Linked DNA regions of Homo sapiens. The protein of the gene in region 1 purifies or fractionates together with the protein of each later gene. This does not show direct contact. Each region holds a gene or a part of one and is shown on either strand. Other genes may lie near its edges.

Region 1 (3,828 bases):
TTCCTAATAGCCTTTTGAGTTATATCCTTTTCATGAGTTCGAGATTTTTTTATATTTGGTTTTAAACCATTTCAAATCTAAAGAAAAAAAGGTTGATATAGATAAACTACAGTATTTCTTACATTCTTTATTATTATATTATTTTAGAAATCACTCTGGCCTCAATGCAGTTCATTGTCACAGCTCTTAAAATAGAAAGAACTAAAATACTGAAAACATGCTGGAGAAAGGATGTTACTAGTTACTATAGGAAACAGTTTTCTGAATTTTTACCTATATGATTATTAAACAGAATTTGCTGAAACACAGTATCTGTTTCAGGTTGGATATGGCACATTTACACGACTTTTTAAATAAGATATTATTATTTATATATATGCTTACTTAAATGATCTTTTATTGAACTGTATGAACATAGAATATAACCAAATTAGTAATTATTATAAATGTATGGACTTTTATTTTTCTGAGAGTTATTCCTCATCACCTTTTTGTGTTACACAGGCTGAAGAAAATCTTGGTATGGTGATGATTTTTACTCTAGTGACAGCTGTGCAAGAAAAATTAAATGAAATAGTAGATCAGATAAAAACTAGAAGAGAAGAAGAAAAGAAACAAAAAGAAAAAGAAGCAGAAGAAGCTGAAAAGGTATATTTAAAAGCCTTGTTTTCTTTTATTATTTCTTAAATCAGTTTTCAGTTGCTTGGTTGGGTTTTTTTTTAATCAATAGCAGTATTTTTTTTGGAAATCACAAAAATAAATAAAAGTAAATTTTAGTAAAGTTTCACTAAAATTGTAGAAGTCCCTCATTTGGTTGGTGGCATAGCATGAGTAATGAATGATAATCAGTAAAAAGTTAGTAAAACTCATGCAGATAAGACCAAGAAGTATAAAGATTTCACCTATGATATAGAGCCAGGGGTGTCCAATTTTTTGGCTTCCCTGAGCCACATTGGAAGAAGAAGAATTGTCTTGGGCCATACATAAAATACACTAACAATAGCTGATGAGCTAAAAAAAATTTGCAGCAAAAAAACATGTTTTAAGACAGTTTACGAATTTGTGTTGGGCCACATTCAAAGCTGTCCTGGGCTGCATGTGGCTCTCAGGCTATGGGTTGGACAAGCTTGATATAGAGTTTAGAATTATAAATCCCCTATACTACAGTGAATTAAATAGTTACTACATGTAAAGAAAACCTCATATTTTGAAATGAAGTGATAAAGCAATGATTTAGTATTAGAAATTGATGTGTATTCAAAACATATCAGTTTTGACAGTGTATTAGTTCGTTTTCATGCTGTTGATAAAGACATACCCAAAACTGGGAACAAAAAGGGGTTTAATTGGACTTAGAGTTCCACATAGCTGGGAAGGCCTCAGAATCATGGTGGGAGGTGAAAGGCACTTCTTACATGGCAGCGGCAAGAGAAAAATGAGGAAGAAGCAAAAGCAGAAACCCCTGATAAACCCATCAGATCTTGTGAGATTTATTCACTATCATGAGAATAGCATGGGAAAGACAGGCCACCATGATTCAGTTACCTCCCCCTGGGTCCCTCCTACAGCACATGGGAATTCTGGGAGATACAATTCAAGTTGAGATTTGGGTGGGGACACAGCCAAACCATATCAGACAGCAACAACTTTCTTCTTAACAATGAATAGCTATGGTGGTAAATACAGTGAATACAATGCATATTATCTTTGTTTCTTGTAATAAGAATAAAAAATGGACTACTCCAAAGTATGTTGCCAAAACCAGTGAGAGTAGCCAGTGCAGGCAGAAATCAGTTTAAATATTTCAAAAATTCAAACATTAATTTTTCTGTTTTTCTTATAAGGGGTTATATTGATATGTTTAAAAGATACTGTTAGGATTTATTAAACTGCTGTTTCATTAATCTGGTGACTTTTTTTTTTTATTTCCTAAGCAATTATTCCATGGTACTCCAGTTACAATTGAGAATTTCTTAAATTGGAAAGCCAAGTTTGATGCAGAACTCTTGGAAATTAAAAAGAAAAGGATGAAAGAAGAAGAACAAGCAGGAAAAAATAAATTAAGTGGTATGATTCCCCTGCCATTCCTGTTCTTCCTAAACCCTCCTGTATCATTTTTTATATAGCAAGAGGATCATTTGGTCAGATTTCTGTAAGAAAATAATATACATAGGCATCTAGGACAAAAAGAGAAAACATATCTACCAGATGATGTTTCTCCACTCATAATTTGTAATTAATTTTTATGGCTTATCTTTGATATAAGTATTATAATTACTAGATCCTGTGATAGAAGGACATTCAGGATCATGTCTTAGAAGTAGTAGAGTCAAACCCATTTGTTTTTCTAGTACCCCAAGGCAGACTGGGTTTTCACTTGTTCCATTTTAATGCAGATACATTTCATATGCCACTTAGCTACTGAATAAATTCAGAAATTTATTGAAATTCACAGAAAAAGAGGTTTTCAAATTTGCTTTCTAAGTATTGTAGTGAAAATGGAGAAAAACTATGCCATTTGAATTAAACATACTTTTTTTTTTTTTTTAGGGAAACAACTATTTGAAACAGATCATAATCTTGACACATCTGATATCCAGTTCTTGGAGGATGGTAAGATAATAGTAGAATTCCACATGTGGGACAGGCACAGTAGCTCAAACCTGTAATCCCAGCATTTTGGAAAGCCAAGGCAGGAGGATTGCTTGAGCCCAGGAGTTTGAGACCAGACTGGGCAACATAGTGAGACCCTGACTCTATTAAAAAAAAAAAAAAGAATTCCACATGTATATAATGTAGTCTCTTTAATTTTGAACCATGAAAATCAAACTGAACTTTATTTATTGTACATTTTTCCTCCCAAGGCTGTTAAAAAATACATTTTGGAGAATAAATTCTAGTGGTTGACTAATTTATACATTTGAAATTAATGTTGTAATTCTATAGCAACATATATTTTAAATTTTTTGGTAACTTAAGCAATATCAAAGATAGAAGTAGACAATGATGATCACACCAGCCTCTCACAACTAGTAAACCAGGTTATTGTGACTCAGGTGACCTGTTTTCTTCAAATTTCTAGTATCATAAATCTGTGAAAACTATTCTATGGACTGTCATGGAGCTTGTAAAAACCTCATGTTTAACTCCTAGCATCCCCTCTCACCAGACTTTCATATGACTCTTGCTGTATTTGGAGCATCTAGTCCCTTGTGCTTTTCTTCTACCACCTATACTCTTCCATCTATCCATCATCGATTCATTCAGAAATATTGATTGCACTGTCCTGGCCACTGAGGATACAGAAGAGTACAGTATGGGCCAGTTCTCTCCCCTCGGGAGCTTATGGCCTACATGTGTTTTCTTAAACTGGGCTCCATACTCAGTCACACCTTTGATAGCACTCTAGAGTTCCGTACTTCATTAACCTTTTGTTGTATCTGTCTTGCCAGTTGGGAATCCTTTAGCTTCTGGCCTTTCAGCCTTGTTCTGGATTACCTGCTGAAGAAGGTTAAGAAGCAGTATTGATATAGCTTACTGCTAAATGCTTTCTAATCTAAGCTAGGCCTTTACTGATAGGCAACATTTTAAAGTTTTTGATACCTTTTCCTTTTCTGATTTCAATGTTTTGTCATTTTCACCTGGATTTTTGTGGTAGTTTCTTAAATTATTTCCCTAAACCTCTTCCTCCTCCTAGTGCCATTACCTATTCTATAGTCACTCCCTATGAGATGGTATTCCTAAAACCCATATTTAATCATACAATTTCTCTCCTTAAAATCCTTTGATGGTTTCCACTGCTTATAGGGAGAGAATGACCTACACAAT
Region 2 (3,828 bases), on another chromosome or scaffold:
CTTGTCAATTAGTGTCCAAGGCTAATGGAAGTCACATGACATGAGTACTGGGAAAATCAGGCAGGCTGTGGGCAGTTCTTGGTCCCTCAGGCAGACCTATGCAGACTGGAAGCCAGAGTGAAAAGCTGGTGCTTCTTTTTGGGTTGGCCTGAGAGGAGTATGGGGTCAGAGTGAGAATGACATTGAGAGTTGAGGACCACAAAGCCCTAGCCAGGAAGAGAGTGTAGAATAGCAATACAGTATACTTCTAAGTCCCTGACTTATGATATTTGTGCAGATAGAAGAAATAAATGAGCAAATCAGAAAAGAGAAAGAGGAAGCTGAGGCTCGTATGCGACAAGCATCTAAGAACACAGAGAAATCAACTGGTGGAGGTGGAAATGGAAGTAAAAATTGGTCAGAAGATGATCTACAATTACTAATTAAAGCTGTGAATCTGTTCCCTGCTGGAACAAATTCAAGGTACTGGTTTTAATGAAACTTTTCTTCAACTCACACTGGAGCCTGGAGATAATGTAGACAGACTCCAAATAGCAGCACTTGTTATCACAGAAACTTGCAGAGATAAATTCTGTGCCACAGCAGAAAAGTGTGAAAAGTGAGGTGCATTTTGAAGCTGTCAGTCTTACCCATTGCATCAGTACACATGCACATATACATATGACAGAATACTTGTTTCTCAGGAAATTGAAGATCATGAGACAAGTCTTGATTTATGTTGGCTTACTCTGTCATGGCTTGTTCTAGGGATTAGGTTTTCTGTAGTTTTTCTTTTACAGTCTTGCTCTTTGTTTTTTCCCACCTCAAGCTGGAGCTTGAGTTTAACTGCAAGAAAGCCCTAGAGATCCAGCGTCCCTAATTCTATAGATGAAACCGAGGCTGTTTTCAGAATGATTGATCTTCTGAAGAAATGTATTAAACTGGCAGTATACACAAATAAGTGGTTTTATTTATGTTGATTTGTACACCAAATCTGTAAGATGTATGGACTTAAAACCAAGATTATCGTTGATTTAAACACATGAAAAGCAAAAACCGTAGTCCAGGCAACAGGAATTTATAGTAGCAGCATAATTAGACCACCAATCTGAGCTCATTCTGTACATACTATAACCTTTCTGCAGTAAAAATCTAATGGTTTTTGTCGTTTCATTTTGTTTTTCCTTACTACTATTCATATTATTGTATAATATATCCTATCAGATGGGAAGTTATTGCTAATTACATGAACATACATTCTTCCTCTGGAGTCAAAAGAACTGCCAAAGATGTTATTGGCAAAGCAAAGAGTCTCCAAAAACTTGGTGAGTTTTGAGAAGTCCATTTGTTACTTTAAACACCTATTTTTAAAATAACTTATGCAATTTAATGAAAGATTAAATGATGATCTGTTAAGTATTAAATTTTTTTCATTTCTCAGACCCTCATCAAAAAGATGACATAAATAAAAAGGCATTTGATAAGTTCAAAAAAGAACATGGAGTGGTACCTCAAGCAGACAACGCAACGCCTTCAGAACGATTTGAAGGTAAATTTTGCTTTTCTAAACGTAGAAAATGCTAGCCATGTATCTGTGCTGCTTGGACGTACAAGACTTAGGGTCTATGTTCAGAATGATAGGGAAATAAAATGTTTAGCAGACTGGAAGCTGTAAGCAAACATTTCCAGGGCAAAGATTTACTTCACCTAACCATTAAAAATGGAGAATTGCAGTTGTTCCATTTCAGATGCCATTAGAGAAGGGGGCTGTTTGTTTTGCTTACCAGGTTTTACAAAACAGTGTTAGAGGATATTATTGGGACTAAAGAATAGTGTTATATCGGGATAATTGCTTGATTTTGAGAAATGTACTGTAATTATATAAGAAAATGTCCTTATGTTTAAGGAAAAACACAGAAGTGTTAAGGAATAAAGAGGCATCATGTCTGTAACTTATGGTTCAAAGTATGTCTGTACATATAGGTAAAAATAATTAGCAAATATGAAAATGTTCACATTTGGGGAATGTAGGCAGAGTATACAGGGATTCTTTCTACTCCTCTAAAATTATTTCAAAATAAAATGTTAAAAATTGTTAGGGTTCAAAACCAGGAAACATAGTAAGACTCAAAAAAAAAAAAAATGTTAGGGTTTGATATTATCTTGGGTGTTGTGATTACTCTAGACCAATGCTTTTCATGTTACAAATCATGACCCATCACTGGGTCATGAAGTCAATTTAGTGTGTTGAATAGAAAATGAGTGTTACACCCATTATATGGGTGGGTATACTTGTGAAACTCTTGATCACGTGTGTCTTTGTTTAGGATGTGATATAAATTTTTTTCTTGCTATGACAAGGTTTGAAAGCAGTTTATGTGGAAAAAGTTCTTTCACTTCATGTTTTGTGAGCCACCAATCCTTTCTTAAACTAATCGCAGAAAGATGCTTTTGGATTAATAGACTTGACTATACATAAGCTGTTTCTTTCTTCTAAGAGTCCCAGTTTTACCTATATTCTTTAATCTTGCTTATTATCCCAAAATTTCAACTTAAAGATATGAGACTTACAGTGTTAATATAGGGGAGGAAAATCATTGCAAAAATCAGCAGTGACTTGTTTGGCTGAGTTAGGCATTATTTCGGTTCTTTTAATAAAGGTAAGTAACAAGGCAGGGTTTCAGAACACCTGAAAGACACTTCTTTATAAAGGAGTTTATTCTCCTGCACCTTTATCTCCACAAAATACAACAGGTATTAGCACACTAGTCTCAGCTCTTTCTTAGGGGGACTTGTTTCCATGTTGGAGGGAGGTGGGCCCTGATATTTGTCCAGTCTGCTTTCTGTGAGGAGAGGTGACCCTGTGAAGGCAAGAGTGACTGGCAGTAGTGCTATGTGGGTATGACTCCTTTGCCTCTTTTATGGAAATGGGAAGGCTCCTTCCTCTTCAGTTGTACCATTAAACAGCAAGCTGGCACCATTTTTTGAATAGTGATTTCTCATAGGAGTTTTGCAACAGTACGTTTAATTTATTTTGGTATTGTGAAGTAACTGGAGAACAGCAGGAAATACTGCCATGTCACTTCCATCTTTTTTCCAAGAGAGGAAATAAAATCTATGGTATTTAGGGCTTTAAACCAATACAAGGAAATTCAACAAAAGACTTCCTAGAACTTAAAAGCTACCTTCAAAAAAGCTTCTTAGGCACCTTAGGTACCATCAAATATTATACAAATTCTCTGCTTTGTTTTGAATAGGTGGTGGTTTTGTTTTGTTTTGTTTTGTTTTTCCTTCTTTAATTGGGAAGGAACTTTGGTTTCTAGGCTTAACTTTTAACAGATCTCACAGGCCGCAGTTTCTAGTAGTAGTCAGGCTACTGGTAGTATTAGTCTGTGTTGTCACTGCATAGTCTGAAATAACTAAATTGCCAGAAGTCCATTAACTTAACCAAATCAGCTTTCTACCACTTAACATTCTACTTTTACCTACACAAGTGGACTGTGTAATACTTAACATCCTTAAGAAACATATTTGTTTCTGACACACATCTTAGATGTTTTCTGAAATATACAAGGTTTAGTTGAAGAACCACAATAGCAGTTATTGGAAGTGTTCAGCATCGGCTCCCAAGATTTTAGCAGATGTGACGAAGAGAACACCACACTACAACACAATCTAATCTCAGCTTGCCTCTCCAGCACTGGTACCTTGGGCACTTGGCTTAATTTTGCTAGGTTTGTTTCCTTCAGTGTAAAACAAGAATGATTTCCAGGGTTTCTATCCAGCAAAAGTTTAACTGTGAGGAAGCTCTTTTACCTATTCTGTAAGGAAGTAGATTTATCAGAACTC

The links.
Region 2: the proteins of RWDD1 (region 1) and DNAJC2 purify together in Homo sapiens (affinity purification with mass spectrometry; one large-scale study listed by BioGRID). This does not show direct contact.

The regions. Positions count from the first base shown.
Region 1 is NC_000006.12:116,588,338-116,592,165, forward strand, and holds part of RWDD1 (RWD domain-containing protein 1), read left to right. Parts: intron 1-504; coding exon 505-648; intron 649-1,934; coding exon 1,935-2,067; intron 2,068-2,550; coding exon 2,551-2,613; intron 2,614-3,828. UniProt on the Homo sapiens protein: Protects DRG2 from proteolytic degradation.
Region 2 is NC_000007.14:103,313,464-103,317,291, reverse strand, and holds part of DNAJC2 (dnaJ homolog subfamily C member 2), read left to right. Parts: intron 1-277; coding exon 278-462; intron 463-1,203; coding exon 1,204-1,304; intron 1,305-1,420; coding exon 1,421-1,528; intron 1,529-2,605; exon of another isoform or gene 2,606-3,828. UniProt on the Homo sapiens protein: Acts both as a chaperone in the cytosol and as a chromatin regulator in the nucleus.